2 separate regions of the Homo sapiens genome follow, and region 1 is linked to region 2. The links come from fine-mapping of genetic effects on plasma protein levels. A gene starts in region 2. The other region holds a variant in brackets. All regions are shown on one strand. Distances are between the middles of the regions.

Evidence for each region. A credible set is the group of variants that fine-mapping cannot tell apart. PIP is the posterior inclusion probability: the model's chance that the variant is causal. Protein levels are from antibody-based Olink assays in UK Biobank. Linkage for the fine-mapping came from a reference panel and not from the study's own genotypes, which makes the PIPs less certain.
Region 1: its variant is the best candidate, but not a certain one, in a credible set for the plasma level of the THSD1 protein (UK Biobank, PIP 0.52).

What each region holds. Positions count from the first base shown.
Region 1 is chr13:51,895,711-51,907,228 of GRCh38, reverse strand. It overlaps a transcript of TMEM272 not described here. Among named protein-coding and RNA genes, the nearest start is that of CCDC70, 40 kb to the right of the region's middle. The variant A/T (reference allele first, on the strand shown) is at 4,966.
Region 2 is chr13:52,399,931-52,411,448 of GRCh38, reverse strand. THSD1 (thrombospondin type 1 domain containing 1) reads left to right here and starts at 5,277. Exons shown (of 5, transcript NM_018676.4): 1 at 5,277-5,418; 2 at 8,768-8,906. The coding sequence starts at 8,849. It also overlaps the pseudogene RNY4P24. RefSeq lists a silencer at 5,188-5,347.

The sequences.
Region 1 (11,518 bases), 500 kb after region 2:
CTCATGAAGGGCTCTAGAGTGAGCTCCCTTAGGGGATGTCAAAGGCCGTTCAAGACAGCAGAAGCCACAAGGCCACGTAAAGCCTCAGCTTGGAAGTTATGCAACATCACTTCTGCTGCATCCCATGGGTCAAAGCAAGTCACAGATGCACCCCAGATCCCTGCTCACGTTGGGAGGAGAGGAACATTAACCATGTGGGAGGGGAGGGTCATTGCAGTTGTTTTTGCAAACAACCTGCTACAGAAGATGTGGCTTCAGAGCACTGCAAAGGCGTTTCTGAACAGACCAGATCACATAGGAAGAGCAGAAAGAAGTGAGTTCCAGCTCATTCGTCTTTGCTAATGTGGAGTCAGGGTATAGCTTCCCTTTCACTGTTGGTCCCCAGCATCAAGGGTCAGTTGGATGTTTGTCCAGGAGCCTGCAGGGACTGTTTGTACTTCTAGAGGAGAGTTGGCATGGCTTTGGGTTGCTGTCTCTGAAACTGCCCTAGGGCCTGGGATCCCGGGGAGTGCCTGCCTGTGCTGGCAGGGAGCCCAGGCCTGTTTGCAAACTGTTTGAATGCCTCAGGGTCAGGGTCTCTCATGGACATATTATTTTCTTATCAGGAGTTAAAATAACTCTAGAACTTCTCCTGTAGAAATGCAGATGCTTTATTACAATGAAAGTACCATTTGTAAAGCATATGCAATTAGGCCAATAACAACCAACATTTACTCCCCACTTTAGGGCCCATGAAGCACTTTCTCATATGTTCTTCCTTGTTCTCACAGTCACCTGTGGTTAGGCCTCATTATCCTAGTTTTTCATATGAGAATACTGAAGCTCTAGGGGCTCCCTGTCTTGCTGGGGGCTCAAAATTGGCTTGGGGCCCTAGGAGTTGCCCTGGGCCCAAGGGTGGAGCTATGGGAGCCCTACAAAGCCTGCCCTGTTTCAGTGAATCCCTTCTCTCCCCCATAACTGCTCATTCTGTGTGGCTGCACTCAATAGATTATTTCACCCTTTGAATTAGATGCCTCAGGGAGTCCCCTTAGCGGGCTAAGTTAACCTTTGCAGGGGGTACTGACATGCCCAGGTACAGCCCAGCCCTGCATGCTGCTCTTTGCTCCAGGGACCCCAGCCTGGTCCACCATTTGCTAGGAGAAGATTTCAGTCCCTCCAGAACACACAGCCTGTAAGGAGCCACACTGGCTCCCAGAGCCCGAGCCCCAAGTCATCACTGGGTACAGTGCACGTTCCTCTGCTGTGCAGTGGTGGAGCTTCATCCTGGTGAGTCATTTGTTCTGCGTCTAGGTGTCTCAGTGAGACTCCTACCTGTCTGCTTCAGAGCCACAGGTGAAGCCTTCATTCTCAATCCGATTGAAGAAGAGAAGGCGGCATCACAGCTGAGTTGCTCTCCATCATAGAACCATGGGGCATTGTCCTCAGACACACGCTGACATTAACCGAGGCTAATGAGGCAGAGCCTCTCATAATAGCATTCTGTTTCTTTGGAAACCAAGGTGTAGTTTTTTAAGTGTCGCATGGCCCTTGATTACAATTTGCATTTCCTAGCACTTATTCTACCATTTTTACAGGGACCTGTGGCAGGCAGAGGGGCTCTGGGCAGCTTCCCTGCAGGATTCCACTTCCTGCTTGGGTCGACCGCGCCGCTGCGAGGGAGGGCTTGCCCCTTGCCTCCCTGCTCTCTGGGTGTTTCCTTTGTGAAGGGAGGGACCTGGCATGCTAGAAAGCATCTCAAAGCCCTGCTGAAGAGGAACTCCGGCTTCCCTTGGGTTGCTCTGAAGAAGGTGCTCTCCAAATGAGAGGGCCTCAGGAAGACAGTGGCATCTCCCTGACTGGGTGAGTCAGGTGCAGCTCTAGCCGAGGTGAGTGGGACCTGCCGTGTCCGAGGTGGTGACAGCAGGCACTGAGACTGCTCTGGAATCATGGCTCTCTGAGGTTGTTGCTCTGAAGTCCTGCCTCTGGGCCCTCGTCCAGTGTCGTGACAGCTCTTTTCTCTGGAAGAGGGAGGACAGTCTCTCTCCCTGCACGAACTGCCTTCAGCCTGACATTTCTTCTCCTGCTTAGGGCCGTTCTCTGTTGACTGCTTCGTGTTGTCTGCTGTTTCTCTTAGCTCAATGCTTCTCAACGAGGGTGCTTTTGACCTCCCCCAGGAGCATTTGGTAATGTCCACAGATATTTTACACAGTAACTACTGGAGGTGTGCTACTGGCGTCAAGTGGTTGGAGGGCAGGGATGCTGTTAAACACCCCACAGCACACAGAACAGACTCCCACAGCAATTATCTATTCCAAAATGTCAGTACTAATGAGGTTAAGAAACACTACTAATGATGATGTTCCCCTACCTGGTAAATAAAATTCAAGGTTTTCAGCCTCCACATCAGTACAGAATGAATGTTTCTTAATTGAAATGCTTGGAGCCAGAAGTGTTTTAGATTTAGGATTTTGGAATATTTGCATTATATTTGCTGGTTGAGCATTCCCAAACTGAAAATCTAAAATCTAAAATGCTCCAATGAGCATTTCCTTTGAGCATGACCTTTGAGCATCATATTGATACTCAAAAAGTTGCAGAATTTTGAGCATTTCAGATTTTTGGATTGCTCAACCTGTACTTTTCACAATATCTTGAAAACGGACCATGCTTATCTTTTCTCTTTTGATCTAGAGCCTCCTTCTTTTCCACGTCCATACCATGAATTCCTATTCAAGCCCAGAGAAAATTATTCATTACTACTATGCATTAGCTGCTGAAGGCCAGGTGATGTTTTCCCAGATCTGACTCATCATGATCATGATCATCAATTATCATTATCATCATCATCAACAACAATTACCTTAGGGTCATCATAAGAATTGCATATAAGCTAGCCACCAAGCAGTCATCAGTCATCTGCCTTTAGCCCAGTGCTACCTGAATTCAGTTTCTGTCATCATGTATTTCTTAATTTCAAAATAGGCAGCAGCACTAAATCTGGTCCATGGGCTCATTAACATCATCATCATCATCATCATTAATATTACCATCATTGTCATCATCACTGCAAAGCAGGCAACAAGCAGTCATTAAGCTCATGCTGATTCTGATGCTGATGGTGAATGAGAAGCAGCACTGCAGAAAACCACCTCATGCCTAGCATCCCAGGGCCACAGGTGCTGTGTGTTAGATTGAGTGTTCACTTGTCCAGTGTGAATGTATTTTTGTTAAGAGTTATTGGCCTTTGAGTTTCTGGTGACCAGATGCTTCTTTCTAAACACACACACACACACACACACACACACACGTGGAAGACTGTTGGAGAAACCCAAATGGTGTCATAGGAGGCAGGTGTGAGAAGACACTTTGGTTGCACAACCAGGTATGATTCTGCCAGAGCAGAAGACCCTATATGGTTCTCTTTTCTGCCCCAGCACTGCCTCATTATGGCTATGATAGGTTTATTGAAGCTAAAGTTTGGGCATTCTGGGGCAGCCTTTGCCCCACACCCACACGAGTCTTTTTCATTTTTCGGTTGCCACTGAAGTCTGGAAATAGCACTCTGCCTTTTCCTCTGGCCCCATAGAAACCGGGACTTCTGGGTGTTTAACTTAGCATCTGACTCCATTAGATGCTCAGGGTCTCCTGCACTTACACCTAGGGATAGGAAAAAGGGGTGTTCTGGGGAGAGTAGGGGGAGCAGTTTGCCCTCTATTTGGTGGCTTTCCTTGTACAGTGGAGAGAGCAGCCAGAACCTGAAGTGACAACTGAGACATCGTCATCTGACGTAGAGTCTCTCTTCCCTCCCTGACCTCGTTGGTGTGCCACCTCTCCCTCCCTCCCATTTCCAACAGCATGCTTAGGAATGAGTTATGAAGTGTCTTATTGGAAACCAAGACCTCAATGGCAATGAAGGGAAGACACTATAGTTAGTTATTATTGATCATCTCTACCTGCACTTTCTATATTTGCAAGCACTTTTTGGGACTTAGTGAGTAATAAATAAAGTGTCTCTAGATCACCTTGCTGCTTCCCACTGCTGCTGCCTCGTGCATCCAGTTCTAGTTGTGTACCTCCTGGATACACACACTAAGGAGGTGAGACCTTCAAAAGAAATGCAAAATATTTCCACAATTGTGTTTGTGTACAAACTGACCTGTCAAAACCAAAACTATATTTAGGTACTAGATTATAATCAACACCCCCAGTGGATGCTATTGGTGCCTTGCCCAGGGCCCCTTTACCAGGCGGATGCACTCATCTCCCAGCTTTGAGTATTGCTCACCGCAGCCACCTGCTTCCTGAAGAATTGCCCTTGCAGAGCAGAAGCCACCATGCTAGGAAGTTATCCACTCCCTCGGCATCACATAGCCAATAACCAATTGCTGTCAGGGCTGTGTTAGTTATCTGTTTCTCAAAATAAATTACTCCAAAACTTAGTGCCTTAAACGGACAATGAATATTTGTTATTTCACAGTCTGTGTGTGTCAGAGATTTGGGAGCAGCTTAGCAGAATGGTTCCCGTTTGGGTTTCTCAGGAGGTTGCCCACAGACTGTCCATCAGGGCTGCAAGTGACCTGCAGGCTTGACTGAGGCAGGTGGCCTTGCTTCTGGGGTGGCTCACTGGCCTGGCTGGCAAGGTGGGGCTGGTTGTTGGCAGAATGCTCAGTCCCTCTAACCATGGGACTCTCCCAAGTTCAGCTTCTAGAGTAGCTATGATAACATACTTTCTATAAAACCTATATTCTAAAATGTATTTAATAAAATAACTTTCCTCTAATTTTTAAATCTGCAACATTGCAGCAGTTCATTTTAGACATTGAGAGGCTGAACATTTTAGATTCTGGTTCTAAAGGCATGTGGGTGCCCTCAACATCAATAGCAGCAGCTAATAATTCCCAAAGCTTTTCCAGGCGCCAGGCCGTGAGAAGGGCAAAATGTGTTGTGATTCTGTTGAAGTAATGCCTACCACCCCTTCAGTCCCAC[A/T]CTGAAAATGTAACAAGGCAACTGGGAAACTGTCTTCAACATCAGTGCTTTTTTTCATTTTGCTTCTCTTGATTTTTACATCTTACAAAACTGAGAATCCACCTATATTTATTCTTTCATCCAATGCACGTTGGCTTCTGACCTCACCCCTGAAATGGCTTCTCCAGAGGTCTGCAGTAACCCCCCTGATACCACATCCCAAGTGATTCTTTTCAGTTTTTTTATTACATGACCTTTCCATGGAGCTTGACCCCAGTGGATAACTTCCCAAGCTCCTCCTCCTTGAAACTCTCCTCTCTTGGATTTTGAGCTTGGATGACAGAGTGAGAAAGGCCTGGCGTTTTTGCTCTGGACTGGGTAACCCAATGAAGCTATGTGGATTTTCTGCACAAATTTGGAATGTAAACACACCCAATGGGGCTTCTGCCCAGAGGATTGTAGCTAGGCTGGGCTGGAGGTAGGGAAAGCAGGGAGGAGGCTACGTGTTTGTGGGAGGAGGCTGATAAAGCCTGAACTCGGGGAGGCAGTGAGCCTTAGGAGAGCAGGTAGATTCTAGATACTTAGGAGAGCCACTGTCACAGAGCTTTGTAAAGGGACTTGGGATGGAGTGGGCACTGGGGGAGGGCAGAAAGGAAAATAGAGACACTGAAGATGTGTCCAGGCTTCTCCGGGGGTAGTTAGTAATGCCATTGACCCAAGTCAACTGATGTATTTCTGTGTTTTTGTTGGATTCTTCTTCATTTTTGACTTTCCTTGGCTATATGAATTTCCAGAAGTACCTGTTCCAGGGGCAACTGACAACTGAGAGGGGTGTGAGGCATGGGAGGGCGGGTGGGGCACAGGCAGCTCCACCGGGCGCCACCCCTCTAGCAGGAGTGGTTTCTTTATATGTACCAGGGATATTTCTGCATTGAACTCTAGACCATGTGGAACTTGGCTTTTTAGCAGGTCAAATGCCAGGCACAACTTTCTAGCTGGACCAGATGCAGCCACACTCAGGAACCGTGCTTCATTAAAGTGTGTGTGGACCCAGGTTCTCTTCCTTCACAATTTTGTGAGTACAGATGAGGTTGTGTGGACATTAACATCACAAATATGAGAAGGCTGGGCCTCACTTGAAAAAAAAAGAAAAGTTTTATTGAGATATAATTCACGTCATAGATGTCACCCCTCTAAAGTTTATAATTCAGTGGTTTTTGGTATATTCATAGAATTGTGCAACCATCACCACTTTAACATTTTAGAACATTTTCACCACCCTTCTCTCCCACAAAACTCTGTACTCATTAGGAGTCATGCCTTTCTCTTTCCTGGCAACCTTGTATCTACTTTTTGTCTCTACAGAATTGTCTATTCTGAGCATTTCCTATAAATGGAACCATAAAACGTGTGGCTTTTTGTGTCTGGCTTCTTATACTTAGCATAATGATTTAAAAGTTCACCTGTGTTGTAGCATGTATCAGTAATACATCATTCATTTTTATTGCTGGATAATAATCCATTTTATGGATATATCACATTTTGTTTGTCCACTCATTCGTTGATGGATACTTGGGTTGTTTCCATTTTTTTTTGGCTACTATGAATAATGCTGACATGAACATTTGCATACAAGTCTTTGTGTGGACTTATATTTCATTTCTCTTGGAGAGACACCTGGGAGTGGAATTGCTAGGCTATTATGGTAACTGTATCTTTACATTAACATTGAAGAACTGACACATGGGCTGCATCTTTTTTCTGATCCCATCAATGATGCATGAGAGTTCCAATTTCTCCACATCTTCACCAACACTGTTATTGTCTGTCTTTTTTATTTCAGTGCATATGAAGTGGTATGTCATTGTGGTTTTGATTTGTATTTCCTTGATGATTAGTGTTGAGCATCTTTCCATGGTCATTTGTATATCCTCTTTGGAGAAATGTCTATTTAACTCATTTGCTTATTTTTAAATTGGGTTGTCCTTTTTTTGTTGATTTGTAAGAGTTAATTTATTCTGGACTCCAGTCCCTTATCAGATCTGTGACTTGCAAGTATCTTCTCCCATTTTGTGGCTGTCTTTTCACTTTCTTGATTATGTGCTTTAAACCACAAAAGATTTTTATTTTGAAGAAGTCCGATTTACATTTTTTTTCTTTTTTTGCCTGTGATTTCAGTGTCTAAGAAACCATTGCCTAATTCAAGGTATAAAGATTTATTCCCAGGTTTTCTCCTAAGAGTTCCATAGTTTTAACTCTTGCATGTAAGACTATGACCCATATTGAGTTAATTTTTGTATGTGGTTTGTAATAGGAGTCCAACTTCATTCTTTTATAGGTGAATATCCAGTTGTCCCAGCACCACTTATTGAAAAGACTGTTCATCTCCCATATGATTGCCTAGGCTTGTCTAAATCAATTGTCCATAAAAGTAAAGATTTATTTCTATTCATAATTTAATAAAAATGTAGTTCTATTCCATTAAGCTACATGTCTAGCCTTTTCTAGTGCCATGCGGTCTTAATTACTATAGCTTTGCATTAAGATCTGAAATAGAGAAACTTGAGTCCCCCAGTTTTGTTGTAAGATTGTTTCGGCTATTCTGGATCCCTTGCATTTTTATATTAACTTTAGGGTCAGTTTGTCAATTTCTACATAGAAGCCAGATGACATTTTTGAGAGGATAGTGTTGAATCTGTTCATCAATTTGGGAAATATTGCCGTCTTAATACTTAAGTCTTCTGATTCATGAACATGGCATGTCTTTCCACTTATTTAGGCCTTCTTTAATTTCTTTCATGATATCTTACAATTTTTAGTGTATAAGACTTGCATTTTCTTTGCAAGTGCCAAATGTTGCTGATTAGAAGTACACTGGAAAAACCTTTCAGTCGCTATACCCTTTTCTGGCTTTTATTACTGTTTTTAATTGACACATAATAACTGTATATATTTATGGGATACAGTGTGATTATGAAGCCTTGCACCTATGTTGTTTATCTCAAGTATTTTTTCTTCTAGATGCTATTGTAAATTGTTTCCTTGATTTCATCTTCAGATTATTCATCGCTAGTATATAGAAATACAATCGATTTTTTATATATTGACCTCATATCCTGCAACTTTACTGTACTTGTTCATTGGTTCTGAAAGCGTGTTTTGTGGATTTTCCAGATAAGAGATCATATCATCTGTGAATAGAGATAGTTTCATTTACTTACCATTATTCTTACTAAATGAATTAATAAGTAAGAGCTGTGGGAGTAAGACATGCAGTCTAGACAGTCTCTAGAAGGTGGCCTTGACAAGGCCAGCAGTGATCAGCAGTGGATGAGAACAGGTTTAGTACTGTGAGATTGGAGCAGGGATTGAGGCAGAGAAAGTGAGGAGGAATGACAGGCAGGTACAAGGTAGAATCAAGTGAGTGGTAGATCAGGAAATCCTAGATAACAGGTTGCCGGTGGCACAGTCATTTTTATTACCTTTTTAGCATGCTGGGTGCCTCTCCTGGAACACATTTAAAGGACCCAAAGGACTCCTTCCAACAGTGCCGTCTTAGCAGGAAAAAGATATAAGTCTAAGCCATTCTTGTTGGCTTTGTGCAGCCAGGATAGGCTGTGAAGTAGGCAAAGGGCAGAAGAGGAGAGAGAACTAACATTTATTATCTAGTATGTGCCAACATTTTGCATATATTGTTTAGTTTAACCCTTACATTACTCCTACTTTTGCAAATGTGAATCTGATGTTTGTTTTGTAAAACATTCAGAAAATGCATGATATTTATGTAGTGGTAGCTGCCATCACACCATAAGTCAGTTGCCCATTTCTCCATCCATGAGGCAGCCATCCTCTCTATTATAAGGAGCTCATTTCTCAATTAGTTCTTTGAAAACTGAAAAGCATGTAGATATAGAACAATATCCTGCATTAGTGCTTCTTAACCAGGAGTGTGTCAGGAGAAAAATCCCCAGGAGTTTCTTGTATTTCTGCATGTTTATGAGCAGGGGCACTGCACTTTTGTTCTAATTATCTTTTTATTTTATTTTATTTATTTATTTATTTATTTTTGAGATGGAGTCTCGCTCTGTTACCAGACTGGAGTGTAGTGCCACAGTCTCTGCTTACTGCAGCCTCTGCCTCCCAGGTTCAAGCGATTCTCCTGCCTCAGCCAGTAACTGGGACTACAGGTGCACGCCACCAAGCCTGGCTAATTTTTGTATTTTTAGTAGAGATGGGGTTTCACCATGTTGGCCAGGATGGTCTCAATCTCTTGACCTTGTGATCCACCCACCTCAGCCTCCCAAAGTGCTGGAATTACAGGCGTGAGCCACCGCGCCCAGCCCTTTTTTTTTTTTTTTGAGATGGAGTCTCACCCTGTCACCCAGGCTGTAGTGCAATGGCATGATCTTGGCTCACTGCAACCTCCGCCTCCTGGGTTCAAGTGATTTTCTTGCCTCAGCCTCCTGAGTAGCTGGGATTACAGGCACGCACCACCATGCCTGGCTAATTTTTGTATTTTCAGTAGAGACAGAGTTTAACCATGTTGGCCAGGCTGGTCTCCAACTCCTGACCTCAGGTGATATACCCACCTCGGCCTCCCAAAGTACTGGGACTACAGGCATGAGCCACTGCGCCCAGCCTTGTTCTAGTTATCTTTTCAACTATTTTTTTCAAGAAGATTATAAAGGAAATCATCTTGGCAGACAAAAATAAGAGTCCCCCTCCAGGGAAGACAGATTTTCTTACTGTGTATGATAATAAAGATAATTTTGGCCAGGCACAGTGGCTCATGCCTGTAATCCCAGCACTTTGGAAGTCTGAGGCAGGCAGGTCACTTGAGCCCAGGAGTTCAAGATCAGCCTGGGCAACATAATGAGACTCCATCTCTACAAAAAAAAAAAAAAAAAAAAAAAAAAAAAAAATTAGCCAGACATGGTGGCATGCATGTGTGGTCCCAGCTACTTTGGAGGCTGAGATAGGATGGTTGCTTGAGCCTAGGTCAGGGCTACAGTGAGTCATGATGGCACCACAGCAAGACCCTGTCTCCAAAAAATAAAAAAAAGACAATGTCTTACTATGGTGTAAAAGTTGGGCAGGTTTACCTGCAGTCCTTTCAGCCTTTCAAAAGATTTGGGTTTCTGAAACTTGGGGCTCCTCTGCTGTGATGAACCCAATGTGTGCTCTGTATTCACCTGGGCCACTCTGCATCACCCTGTGGTGCCAGAGAACAAAGGGAACCAACCTGAACATGAAGTTTATGCTGCTTGCTGTGCTTTGTTTCTGACTCAGGAGTCTTGTGTCTTCTGACGGTGTACATGGAACTGCGGCAGACTAACTCCTGTCAAGGTGCTCATCTAAATCACCTGTGGGGTTTCAAAAATCCATACCTGCCTGGGTCCTACCCCAGTGATTCAGATTCAGTATGTCTGGAGTGGAGCCCAGGTACCTGGGTTTCTTTAAGTTCTCTGAATTGTCCTGAGCACATGACCAACTGAGACCACTGTTCTCACAACAGTCAGACCCCCAAGCCGACCAAACTGGCCAAGCTTCTGGCAAGGATCAGTGCACAGTTGGAAGTACTCAGCCGGGTTCTGGAGACACTGTAAGAAGACCGCTGCAGGGGTGCCTCATGGGAAGAGATGGACCTCCTCTGGTGGTCGCAACAGGCTTTGTCTGATAATCACAGCATCCCCCTCTCAGGGCATCCGGCTGGGTGCATGGGGCATGTGCACCGACAACTTGAACAACCTTCCCCAGAGGGCAGTGACTGCAGAACCAGGACCTGCCCTGAGCATTTTAGCCAGGCTGTGAGAGGGTGCCCTCTCCTGGACATGCTGCTGCTGCTCACATAGTTCCTTCACTTAAAACCAAGTCTCTGAAATGATAAGAAAACTTCAATAATTATTCTAAAAACATACATTTGTGTTACACACACGTGTTTCTCTGTCTCTCTCATACACACACACACCCCTCTAGAGCTATATGGCTTGTTATAGGCTTTGAAAATCTTTTATATTCACCAAGCTGTCCCCGATGGCACAGCTAGAAGGAGCTGGAGAAAAAGACAAGTCAGTCTGAAGCTTTCTTGTAGGCTGAGAGTTACATTTCCCACAGATTGGCTTCTCCAGGAAGGGGATGTGGAGTGTTGGACTTTCCTGTGCCAAAGTTGAGACTGGGGCCCTGGGGTTTGCTGAACACTAATAGAATTTAGCAGACTCTTGTTCTCCCTGAAGAAAAGAGCTTTTGAAAGCAGGCATTGTCCACAGAAAAGAGATGAAGTGTTTAGGCTAAGAGGAGGAGGGTCAGGCAGCTGTTAGAAGAGGCTTGTGGTTACGTTGGTTGCTATGTGGGAAATTTTTGTAAAAATTTAAAAAGGGAAAAAAGACCATGGCAAGAGCATCCTGAGTCTCAGGGGTTGTGTATTGGAATCTGAGAAGTGGAGAGGATATTTACCATCACAGGGGGGCTGTCAGATCACGGATGTTAAGCATTTGGCGCATTGGGAACACTCCCTACTGGTAGCTGTAAATATCATCATTAGCTGCATGCTCAGCTGTTTTATTTTTTCCCCCAT
Region 2 (11,518 bases):
GACCATACCACTGTTTGTTTGAAAGCATTTTTTCCTTTGATTTTTATATTGCCTTCTTTTAGAAAACGTTAAACTATATCTTTTTTTTTTTTTTTAGTAGAGACGGGGTTTCACCATGTTAGCCAGGTTGGTCTCGATCTCCTGACCTCGTGATCCGCCCGCCTCAGCCTCCCAAAGTGCTGGGATTACAGGCGTGAGCCACCGCGCCCGGCCTGAAAACGTTAAACTGTATCTTAACTGTCCAATAAAGACAGCAGTACAGTTTGGCAAGAATTCTAATGGAGACAAAATTGACCAATCAGTTCAATAAAGCTGTTATTTAAAAAATGACCAAGCATATTGATAGAGCCACTTGTACCTGGATTTCCTCCCTTGAAGAGTAGCTTTTTGGGGAAAAAGTATGTGCCTGAAAGATTAATGCAGAGAAAGCTGCCTCCGATATGTTTCACTTAATCACTATAATATTTCACAATAACTATTATATGCTTTCTACAGTGAAGGGAAGGAGGGATTAAGAAATCTACCCAGATTTGCAGTGTCAGGGCTGGAATTTAATCTAGGCTTATCTAAAAGTGTATCTTTTTACTTGTATGCAGTGTAAGGAGGAGGTCCAACTTCATTCTTTTGCATGTGGCTATTTGGTTATGCCAGCACCATTAGTTGACCATTAAATGGTCTTGGCACACTTGTCAAAAAACAATTGACCATATGCTTGCATATGGGGTTTTTTGTTTTAAAAAGTAATTTTTAAAAACTCAATTGACCATAGATATGAGTTTCTGAACTTGCATTTCTAGCTATTTATCTATCTTTTTGCTAATATCACACTGTCTTGATTACTACTGCTTTGTAGTAAGTTACTTTTTTTTTTGAGACCGACTCTCACTCTGTCACCCAGGCTGGAGTGCAGTGGCACATTCTCGGCTCACTGCAACCTCCGCCTCCCGGGTTCAAGCAATTCTCCTGCCTCAGCCTCCTGAGTAGCTGGGACTACAGGTGTGTGCCACCATCCCCAGCTAATTTTTTTTTTTTTTTTTTTTTTTTAGTAGAGATGGGGTTTCGCTGTTGGTCAGGCTGGTCTCAAACTCCTGACCTCAAGTGATCCGTCTGCCTTGGCTTCCCAAAGTGCTGGGATTACAGGCATGAACCAGCCTGTAGTAAGTTCTGAAATTGGAAAGTGTGAGTCCTCCAAATACGCTCTTCATTTTCAAGATTGTTTTATCCTGTTCTGGGTTCCTTATACCCCCATATAATTTTTTTTTTTTTTCAGACAGGGTCTGGTTCTATTGCCCAGGCTGGAGCGCAGTGGCACAATCTCGGCTCACTGCAACCTCTGCCTTCTGGGCTCAAGCAGTCCTCCCGCCTCAGCCTCCTGATGGCTGGAACTACAGGTGCACACCACCACACCAGATAATTTTTGTACTTTTGTAACTCCAATGCCTGCTCTTTCCACTGAGCTTTTGCTTTTAAAACTGAAATGCCAGGGAGTGGGTGGTATGTATTTGAAAAAGAATCCTAGTGTAAATTGGTGAATGGAAATTAGACTAGATAATTCTACTGGCAGTGAAATTGGATGATCACCTTAAAGTCTTCTTTGAAACTTTGGATGGATTTAATTAGTATTGCTAGAAGTAACTATTTGACAAGATTGGTTGGTCTCACTCTGTCATGTAGGCTGGAGTGCAGTGGCGTGATCACTGTTCTCTGTAGCCCCAACCTCTCGGGCTCAAGTAATTCTCCCACCTCAGCCTCCAGAGTAGCTGGGACAACAGGTACATGCCACCACACCTGGCTAATTTTTTATTTATTTTATTTTTTGAGACGGGGTCTTACCCAGCCTGTGCAGTGGCATCATCTTGGCTCACTGAAGCCTCCACCTGGGTTCAAGTGATCCTCCTGCCTCAGCCTCCCAAGTAGCTGGGACCACAGGCACGTGCCATCACAGCCGGCTAGTACATTCTATTTTTGGTAGAGACAGGGTTTTGCCATGATGCCCAGGCTGGTCTTGAACTCTTGAGCTCAAGCGATCCACCTGCCTTGGCCTCCCAAATAATTTCTTATTTATTGTGGCGATGGAGTCTTGCTGTTTTGCCCAGGCTGGTCTAAAAGTACTGGGCTCATGCAAACCTCCTGCCTTGGTTTCCCAAATTGTTGTGATTACAGCCATGAGCCACTGCACCTGGCTGACAATATAAGTTCTTAGAAAATTTTATACCTCTGGTAACATATAAGTAAATACTTGTGCTACCTTTTTAAAAATGAAGTGATAGAGTCAAAGACCTGCAAATCACATATTTAAAAATTTTTTTTTAAATGAGGTACAGTTTACAAACTGTAATGCACAGATCTTCAGTCAGACAAGTTTTAACAAATGCTTAGTAAATCCATGTAACTCACACTCCAAACAGTAGAACATATCTGTCGCCCCCTAAAAGTTTCCTGGTGCCTCTTTCCTGTCATCGCTCTCCAAAGGCCACCACTGTGCTTTGATTTCCATTACCAGATATTAGTTTTGCTGTCAAATGGTATATTCTGCATACCGGATATTAGTTTTGCTGTCAAATGGTATATTCTGCATAAAAGAAAAGCAAGTGTTAAACCATACTGCATAGTTACTCAATTTAACAAGCACAGCTGTTAAGGTGGAATCTATCCTCTCATATATTCCCAAAAACTTAAAACTCTTTTTTAAATTTTAGTTTTAGATTTGGGGGTGCATATGCAGGTTTGTTACAAGGGTAATTGCATGTTGCTGAGGTTTGGGCTTCTATTGATCCTGTCACCTAGATAATGAACATAGTACTGAGAGGTGACAGCGTGCTGGCAGCCCTCACAGCCCTCGCTGGCTCTCAGCACCTCCTCTGCCTGGGCTCCCACTTTGGCGGCACTTAAGGAGCTCTTCAGCCCGCTGCTGCACTGTGGGAGCCCCTTCCTGGGCTGGGCTGGCTGAGGCTGGAGCTGGCTCCCTCAGCTTGCGGGGAGGTGTGGAGGGAGAGGCGCTGGCGGGAACCGGGGCTGCGCACGGTGCTTGCGGGCCAGCACGAGTTCCGGGTGGGTGTGGGCTCGGCGGGCCCGCACTCGGAGCGGCCGGTGGGCCCTGCCGGCCCCGGGCAATGAGGGGCTTAGCACCTGGGCCAGCAGCTGCAGAAGGTGTGCTGGGTCCCCCAGCAGTGCCGGCCCACCGGCGCTGCGCTCAATTTCTCGCAGGGCCTTAGCTGCCTCCCTGAGCAGGGCAGGGCTCGGGACCTGCAGCCCGCCATGCCTGAGCCTCCCCCACCTTCCATGGGCTCCTGTGAGGCCCGAGCTCCCTGACGAGCACCACCCCCTGCTCCACAGCGCCCAGTCCCATCGACCACCCAAGGGCTGAGGAGTGCGGGCACAGGGCGCGGGACTGGCAGGCAGCTCCACTTGCAGCCCCGGTGCGGGATCCACTGGGTGAAGCCAGCTAGGCTCCTCACTGGTGGGCACTTGGAGAACCTTTATGGCTAGCTAAGGGATTGTAAATACACCAGTCGGCACTCTATCTGGCTCAAGGTTTGTAAACACACCAATCAGCACCCTGTGTCTAGCTCAGGGTTTGTGAATGCACCAATGGACACTGTATCTAGCTACTCTTGTGGGGACTTGGAGAACCTTTGTGTGGACACTCTGTATCTAGCTAATGTAGTGGGGACGTGGAGAACCTTTGTGTCTAGCTCAGGGATTGTAAATGCACCAATCAGCGCCCTGTCAAAACAGACCACTCCGCTCTCTGTAAAATGAACCAATCAGCAGGATGTGGGTGGGGCCAGATAAGAGAATAAAAGCAGGCTGCACGCGCCGGCAGTGGCAACCCGCTGGGGTTCCCTTGCAAAGCGTGGGAGCTTTGTTCCTTGGCTCTTTGCAATAAATCTTGCTGCTGCTCACTCTTTGGGTCCACACTGCCTTTATGAGCTGTAACACTCACTGCGAAGGTCTGCAGCTTCACTTCTGAAGCCAGCGAGACTACGGACACACTGGGAGGAACGAACAACTCCAGACGCGCCGCCTTAAAAGCTGTAACACTCATGGCGAAGGTCCGCAGCTTCACTCCTGAACCAGCGAGACCACGAACCCACCAGAAGGAAGAAACTCTGAACACATCCGAACATCAGAAGGAACAAACTCCGGACAGGCCGCCTTTAAGAACTGTAACACTCACCGCGAGGGTCCGCAGCTTTATTCTTGAAGTCAGAAAGACCAAGAACCCACCAATTCCGGACACAGTACCCAATAGGATGTTTTTCAGCCCTTGCCCCTTTCTCTCCCTCCCTTGACTTGGAGTCTCCAGTGTTTGTTGTTGCCATCTTTATGTCCATGAGTACCCGTTGTTTAAGCTCCCACTTATAAGTGAGAACATTCGGTGTTTGGTTTTCTGTTCCTATGTTAATTCACTTAGGATAATGTCCTCCAACTGCATCCATGTTGCTACAGAGGACGTGATTTTGTTCTTTTTTTATGGCTGTTTAGTATTTCGTGGTGTGTATGTACCACATTTTCTTTACCCAGTCTACTGTTGATGGGCACCTAGGTTGATTCCATGTCTTTGCTATTGTAAATAGTACTGTGATAAACATAGTGCGGGTGTCTTTTTGGCAGAATGATTTATTTTCCTTTGGGCATACACCCAGTAATGGGATTGCTGGGTCGAATGATCTTTCTGTTTTTAGTTGAGAAATCTCCAAACTGCTTTCCACAGTGGCTGAACTAATTCACATTCCTATAAAAAGAACTTTAACACTTGCAGAGTAGAGTTTTTAAAATGTTTAGTTATTTTTAATACCAATTCTGACCCCAGGGAAAGAAAATGGAGATGCACTTTACCTGAACTATGTTCTTTTGAAACTCTTCAGTGACATTTGGGAAAGCAAGTTTACAGCCCACATGCTGTGCCGCTTCAAGGACTTATTTTTGTGGTCTCCCTGAAGAAAATGACACTAGAGTAGAAGTGATTGAATGTGAAGTGTCAGGAGATTGCTCGCTCGTCCTTCGTTAAACCCCTGGTCCGGCTGTGTGCTGTGGATGCGGGTGTGTGTTGAGGGGACCTGCGTCTGCCGGGGCCGCACCCCCTCCCGCAGGACCTTGGCTGGCCGCGCGTTTCCTGCCTGTTTCCTGTCCAGCAGCTGGCGAGCTGGGGACCGGCAGGAAAGGATGCGCTGCCCAGAAGGGGCGGGAACCGACCACGCCCGGTCCCGTGTGCCCCCCGCCCTCCCGGCGCCCGCCCTCCCCACGCCGTCGGGGGCGGGCCCCGCGGGGCTGTGGGAGCCGAACGCCGCGGGGTCAGGGCGTGCAGTCTGGGACGCGGGATGCTTGGCGCTCTACCTCGCCGCCCCTGAGCCTTCCCGTCCGCCTCGCCACGCGCCCGGACGGCCTGGGGTTGCTGCCCGTCAGTCTCGAAAGGTAAGAAGCGCCCTCCGCATCCTGGTGTTCGCGCCCGTGCCGCGAGACTCTTGGAGGCTCCTCTGGGGTCGGGAAATGCCTCCGGACTCTGCCACCTCACCGCAGCCTGAAGGCGCAGGTGGACGGTGGCGGCCCCTCCCCACACCCGCCTCGGCCCCAGGGGACGCTTTTAAGGGGTATTGGTCTCCACACTTCGGAGTCCCGAATTTAAGTGAACCTGGCTCTGCCTTGGCTCAGATGTTGCCGAGTGACTGAGACTGGCCACAGAACCTTGAAAAATCGCGTCTTGAGCTACTGTTTCTTTCCAAAAAGAAATCCTTTCTGATATACAAAAAGTATGAAATACAAGGATTAAATTAAATTAAAGACGGTCCTCATTAAGGAGGGCTTTAAGCTGACGACGCGAGGGGTAGACTTCCAGGCGTGAACTGGGCTTGCGGGCATTTGGGAAGCTGAGTAGATGGGGCGAGCCAGGGCGTCCCAGGAACGCTGCACCCAACCTGTGGGACCAGGGCAGAGCAAACTCGAATGAACAGATAAATGAAGCCTGTTTACACGAGCTGCTTTAGAACTAGAGATTTCCTCCCAATAAATACTATTGGTATATATACACACAAGCATGTGCATGTTGGTCAGAAGGGACAAAATAACTGCTTCGTTTTCCATTTTATTCTTTCACGAATCATTGGTCCCATGGACATTAGTGTAATTCATTTACTTTTTCTGCAGCTATGAAGGGAGATTTAGAAGCGTTTGTCCTAGCTGGTTTCAGCAAAAACATGGGGTCTCAGGTTGGGTGATGCTGTTAGCCATTGAGAATATTCACAACTTTTCCCCACCTTCTCAGCTGATGCATTTAGAATTTGTCTCTAAAGTTTACATACAAGAATGCTAGGTAGAAGTATTTTCAAATGTGTATAAAATATATCTAAGTTCTTAATTTCTTAGAACAATTCTCAATGCAAACATTGTAAGAAGTCAGTCGAGGTATTGAGAACAACATGTTGAAAGAAAATAAGCAAGGTAGAAAGAAATTAAAGAGACATATTATGACTAATGTTATGATCATATTCCATATTATGATTGACAAGTAGGCTGGTCTGTTTTATAAGTCTTTTTCCATTCAGCTCTAAATATAGATTGTCTCACCATTCTATGTTTTACCGATCATTTTCATAAGAAAGAAAATGTGTTATAATCACTAAATCAGTAATGATTTGGGGCTTCAAAAATAAAAATGTTATTGTCGTGGAAGCAAACAAATCTGAGAGAAGCCAGTTCAACTTTTGGGAGCTTGCTTCTTCTTAGTTTGGTTACCAGGTCTCAGTGACTTAAAAGAAGCATTGTAATTGTCTTAAGTGCTCACACTTGCCCAAGTGATGTGATGTGTTCTGCAAGGATCTTACTGGCTGACTTTGCCCAGGTTTCCCAGTCCATGTTCGAGGAAAGAATTGGGTCAAGTCTGTGGCTAATTCCACCCAAAACAATTTTCTTCTTCTTTCCTTTCTTTTCTTTTTTTTGGGTGGGGGTGGCGGGGAAGAGGAAGGAGCCCTAATCTGCATAGTTACACTTCAAATCTCTGTTTCCCTTTCAGGAAGTACAGTATTTCCTTTGTTCAGCAGCTCTTGCTGAAAGAAAGCTAATAAGACACACCAGTTTCCCTTCCATTGAATTCTGGCTTATTTCAATCAGTCTTCTTAATTCCACTAATTTGTGCTCTTATCTGAAAAGATGTAACATGTATTTGGAATATAATATACTTGCTTATTAAAATGATTAACTGTGGGCTGGGTGTGGTGGCTCACGCCTGTAATCCCAGCACTTTGGGAGGCCATGGTGGGCAGATCACGAGGCCAGACATCTGAGACCAGCCTGGCCAAAGTGGTGAAACACCGTTTCTACTAAAAATACAAAAATTAGCCAAGCGTGGTGGTGCACACCTATAATCCCCGCTACTCAGAAGCCTGAGGTGGGACAATCACTTGAACCTGGGAGGTGGAGGTTGCAGTGAGCCAAGATCATGCCACTGCACTCCAGGCTAGGTGACAGAGCAAGACTCTGTCTAAAAAAAAAAAAAAAAAAAAAAAAAAAATGTGAATAATGGGGGGGACCTTAAACATTAAGAAAGTACATATTTGGTTATATTTAATATTAATACATAGTTTGCTAGACTCTAGTATGAAAGAACTGTCTTAAATGCCCAGTATCTTATTCTATAGTTGAATAGTCTATATAAAAATAAGTGCCTTTTCCAGCCGGGTGCGGTGGCTTACGCCTGTAATCCCAGCACTTTGGGAGGCTGAGATGGGCAGATCACGAGGTCAGGAGATCGAGATCCTGCCTAACACAATGAAACCCCGTTTCTACTAAAAATACCAAAAATTAGCTGGGCATGGTGGTGGGCGCCTGTAGTCCCAGCTACTCGGGAGGCTGAGGCAGGAGAATGGCGTGAACCCGGGAAGCGGAGCTTGCAGTGAGCCGAGATCTCGCCACTGTACTCCAGCCTAGGCGACAGAGTGAGACTCCATCTCTAAATAAATAAATAAAATAAAATAAGTGCTTCTTCCAACAAATAACTGAACCACAGGCCAGCAAGGTCTTCCCTGCCCTCTTAGGTAGACTGGGAAGATTGCTGTGTGAACCACCGATCTCGTGATGCATACCAGCAGCAACAAGTATTGCAGGACTGATGAAGATGATTGTTATTTGTCTGTTTTCTCCTTAGGCTGCCCTAAACAAGGGAAGTCAGGGCCACATGGAGTTCATATTTAATTGTAGTATTCTGGGGTATCTTTTTTTTAAAAAAGCTTTGATCACTTGGATGTAGCTCCTAGGAATTGATAAATGAAGCAATCCTGGTAACACACCAATTGTGCAAGGAAATGTTAGCCCATTTGTGGACGCCAGGCAGGGAGCATTTGGGTATACACAGCACAATGCTAAATTAAAGTTTAGCAGAAATTTAGTAAATTGATCAGTGTGAAATGCCAAGCAGATAAATAATGTGAAAATGTATCCAAATTGGCTATTAACTTTGATAAAATTAAGCAAATAACAATAAACTCTCCACGTCAGGATGTGCTGTAAAGAGAAGAGACTTTGGTGTTGTGCAAAGATAATTTTAGTGGGTGTTGGGCATACCTGCATATTCTTGACCTGTGAGTTATAATGGAATGAAAAAGGCTTGTATAATTATAAGTCATTGCCCCAGGGAAAATTAGTGTCCTCTCTAGTTTCCTTTCAATATCACTTAGAAAGTTTGAGTTTTAGAATGGTTTTGTCATTTAATGATTACTATTTTATCAATCACATTGAACGGAGCCATCATTTTTTGAGGTTCTAATTTCAGGTGTTTTTGGGGAAAAAAATCACAATCTGGACGTGAGAAAGGACATGAGGAGACTAAAGACCTGGGATTTTGTCAATCAGAATGAAACCAATGTTGAAAGACTTTTCAAATCTATTGTTGGTGGTACTCTGTGACTATGGTGAGTATTGTGAGTATACTTAACGCTACTGGTAGCAATAAGACATAAAGATGACATTATAAATGCATTGATGTTGATGACTCTTCCTGAAGGAGGCAGGGTAGGGTATATAGTGCAGTGCTTTCTCAACTGTGACCCTTGCAACCCTGGGTTCTCTTATGCTTCAGTGATTCTGCATGATTGATTCGTATTTCATTTTATATTTTTAACTCTTAAAAAAATAAAAAAACCAACTCTCTCAAATTTTAACAAATTGGAGGCAAGCATGTTACCTTGAGTTCTCTTTGATTTCCCAGTAATTAAGTGTGATAAATCACTTCATACACACATGCAATGATGTTGTGTATATTAGGGTTCTACATAAGATTTCACTTGACCGAGTTTTGGTGCTAACATACATTTGGACCCAATCTGAATTTCAATCCTTGAAAGTTGCGTGCTCTTAGAAAAGTTTCTTAATCTCTTTCAATCTCAGCAATAATATTGACTTTACAGGGTTGTTATGATAATATCAAGAGTGCAAAACACCCTGAATGAGCAAATAGTAGGTGCTTAAAGTCTGTTCTCGTCATTCGTTTCACCTAAAAATTGAGTTCATTTCTCAGAGAGCTTTATACAACTACTGAACAATAGAGTCAACAATATGATATAATCTTCACTACTTTTGATGATTTCCAAATATTTCATAGACATCTAAGCAGTTGATTGCATGGCAGTGGAAGTTGTTTTTGAATTTGGTAAAGAAATTGTGATCCAAGATATAGAGGACACTGGCTTGTGTAATGTGAATGGCATAGCTGGTTAAATGGACCAGAGCCTGTGCTGTTCATTTCATTCAGTAGACCTCCTTTCTCAGTCTTTTCTTTTTTAAGAAGTTTATTTATACAAGAAGACACCGGATTTAAGGAAAGCCAGTGTGGGATTCATTTATTTTAAAGTAATTTGGCCGGGCGCGGTGGCTCATGCCTGTAATCCCAGCACTTTGGGAGGCCGGGGTGGGCGGATCACCAGGTCAGGAGACCAAGACCATCCTGGCTAACATAGTGAAACCCCATCTCTACTAAAAATACAAAAAAATTAGCCGGATGTGGTGGCAGGTGCCTGTAGTCCCAGCTACCCGGAAGGCTAAGGCAGGGAATGGCGTGAACCCGGGAGGCAGAGCTTGCAGTGAGCCGAGATCGCACCACTGCACTCTAGCCTGGGTGACAGAGCGAGACTCTGTCTCAAAAAAAAAAAAGTAATTTATCCCTTCTTAAAAACCGATTACTCTGGCTGGATGCAGTGGCTCACGCCTGTAATCCCAGCACTTTGGGAAGCCGAGGCGGGCAGATCACGAGGTCAAGAGATTGAGACCATCCTGGCCAACATGGTGAAACCCCGTTTCTACTAAAAATACAAAAATTAGCTGGATGTGGTGAGACGCACTTGTAATCTCAGCTACTTGGGAGGCTGAGGCAGGAGAATCACTTGAACCCGGGAGGCGGAGGTTGTGGTGAGCCGAGATCATGCCACTGCACTCCAGCCTGGGCAACAAGAGCAAAAGTCCGTCTCAAAAACAAACAAACAAAAAAACAAAAACAAAAAAACACAGATTACTCTACATGTAACAGCCTTCTACAAAAAAGTATGTGTTCTTGGTTTCATAATGATAAATAAAGCATCGAAATTCTCCATTTAAACAAATTATACAAGGGTGTTTGTTGTTAATAGCAAAATTTCTTACTGGAATATGAAAATGAAAGTTGAATGAGCATAAAAAAAGAGCATAGAGGTTGAGTGCACAAGCCACTGATAAAAAAAGTAGGTATTGTCGTAGATCTGTTTTACCCTGCTTTATCTCTACTTAATACTGATCAAAATTTAGCATTACCTGTATATTACAGTAGTCAGGATGTGGTAGAACCAAATTGTAGTTTTTTGTTTGTTTGTTTGTTTGTTTTTTTGAGATGGAGTCTCGCTGTTGTCGGCCCGGGTTGGAGTGCAATGGTGCAATCTCGGCTTACTGCACCCTCCACTTCCCGGGTTCCAGCAATTCTCCTGCCTCAGCCTCCTGAGTAGCTGAGATTACAGGCGCCCATCACCATGCCCAGCTAATTTTTGTATTTTTAGTAGATTCAGGGTTTCACCATGTTGGCCAGGCCAGTCTTGAACTCCTGACCTCAGGTGATCCACCCATCTCGGCCTCCCAAAGTGCTGAGATTACAGGTGTGAGCCACCGTGCCTGGCCCAAATTGTAGTTTTCTAACAGGAGCTCTAAAGTAGCAAATTCTCCCTCTAGTACATACCTCCTATCTGCTGCTGCTGGAACTCATCAATTGCATCTTTGTTTTCCATTTCCAACGGGGCATGTGTGTCTTTTTCATTGACTGGCTCCCATCAATCAGAATCTGATCTGCTTCACTGACAATCCCTGTCATACACAAGAGACTGCTTTTTTTTTTTTTTTAAGCCAGTCAAATTTAGTAGTTGGGGGTCATATACCAACTTTGGTGACACTAATGTTAATAAGTTCTGATAACCTGCTACCATCGGACCAGCCTGCAATAGACTTTCATTAGTTAACTAAGTGGTGTATGCCTCTTATTCTTAAATGGACCACAGAACCATCCTGC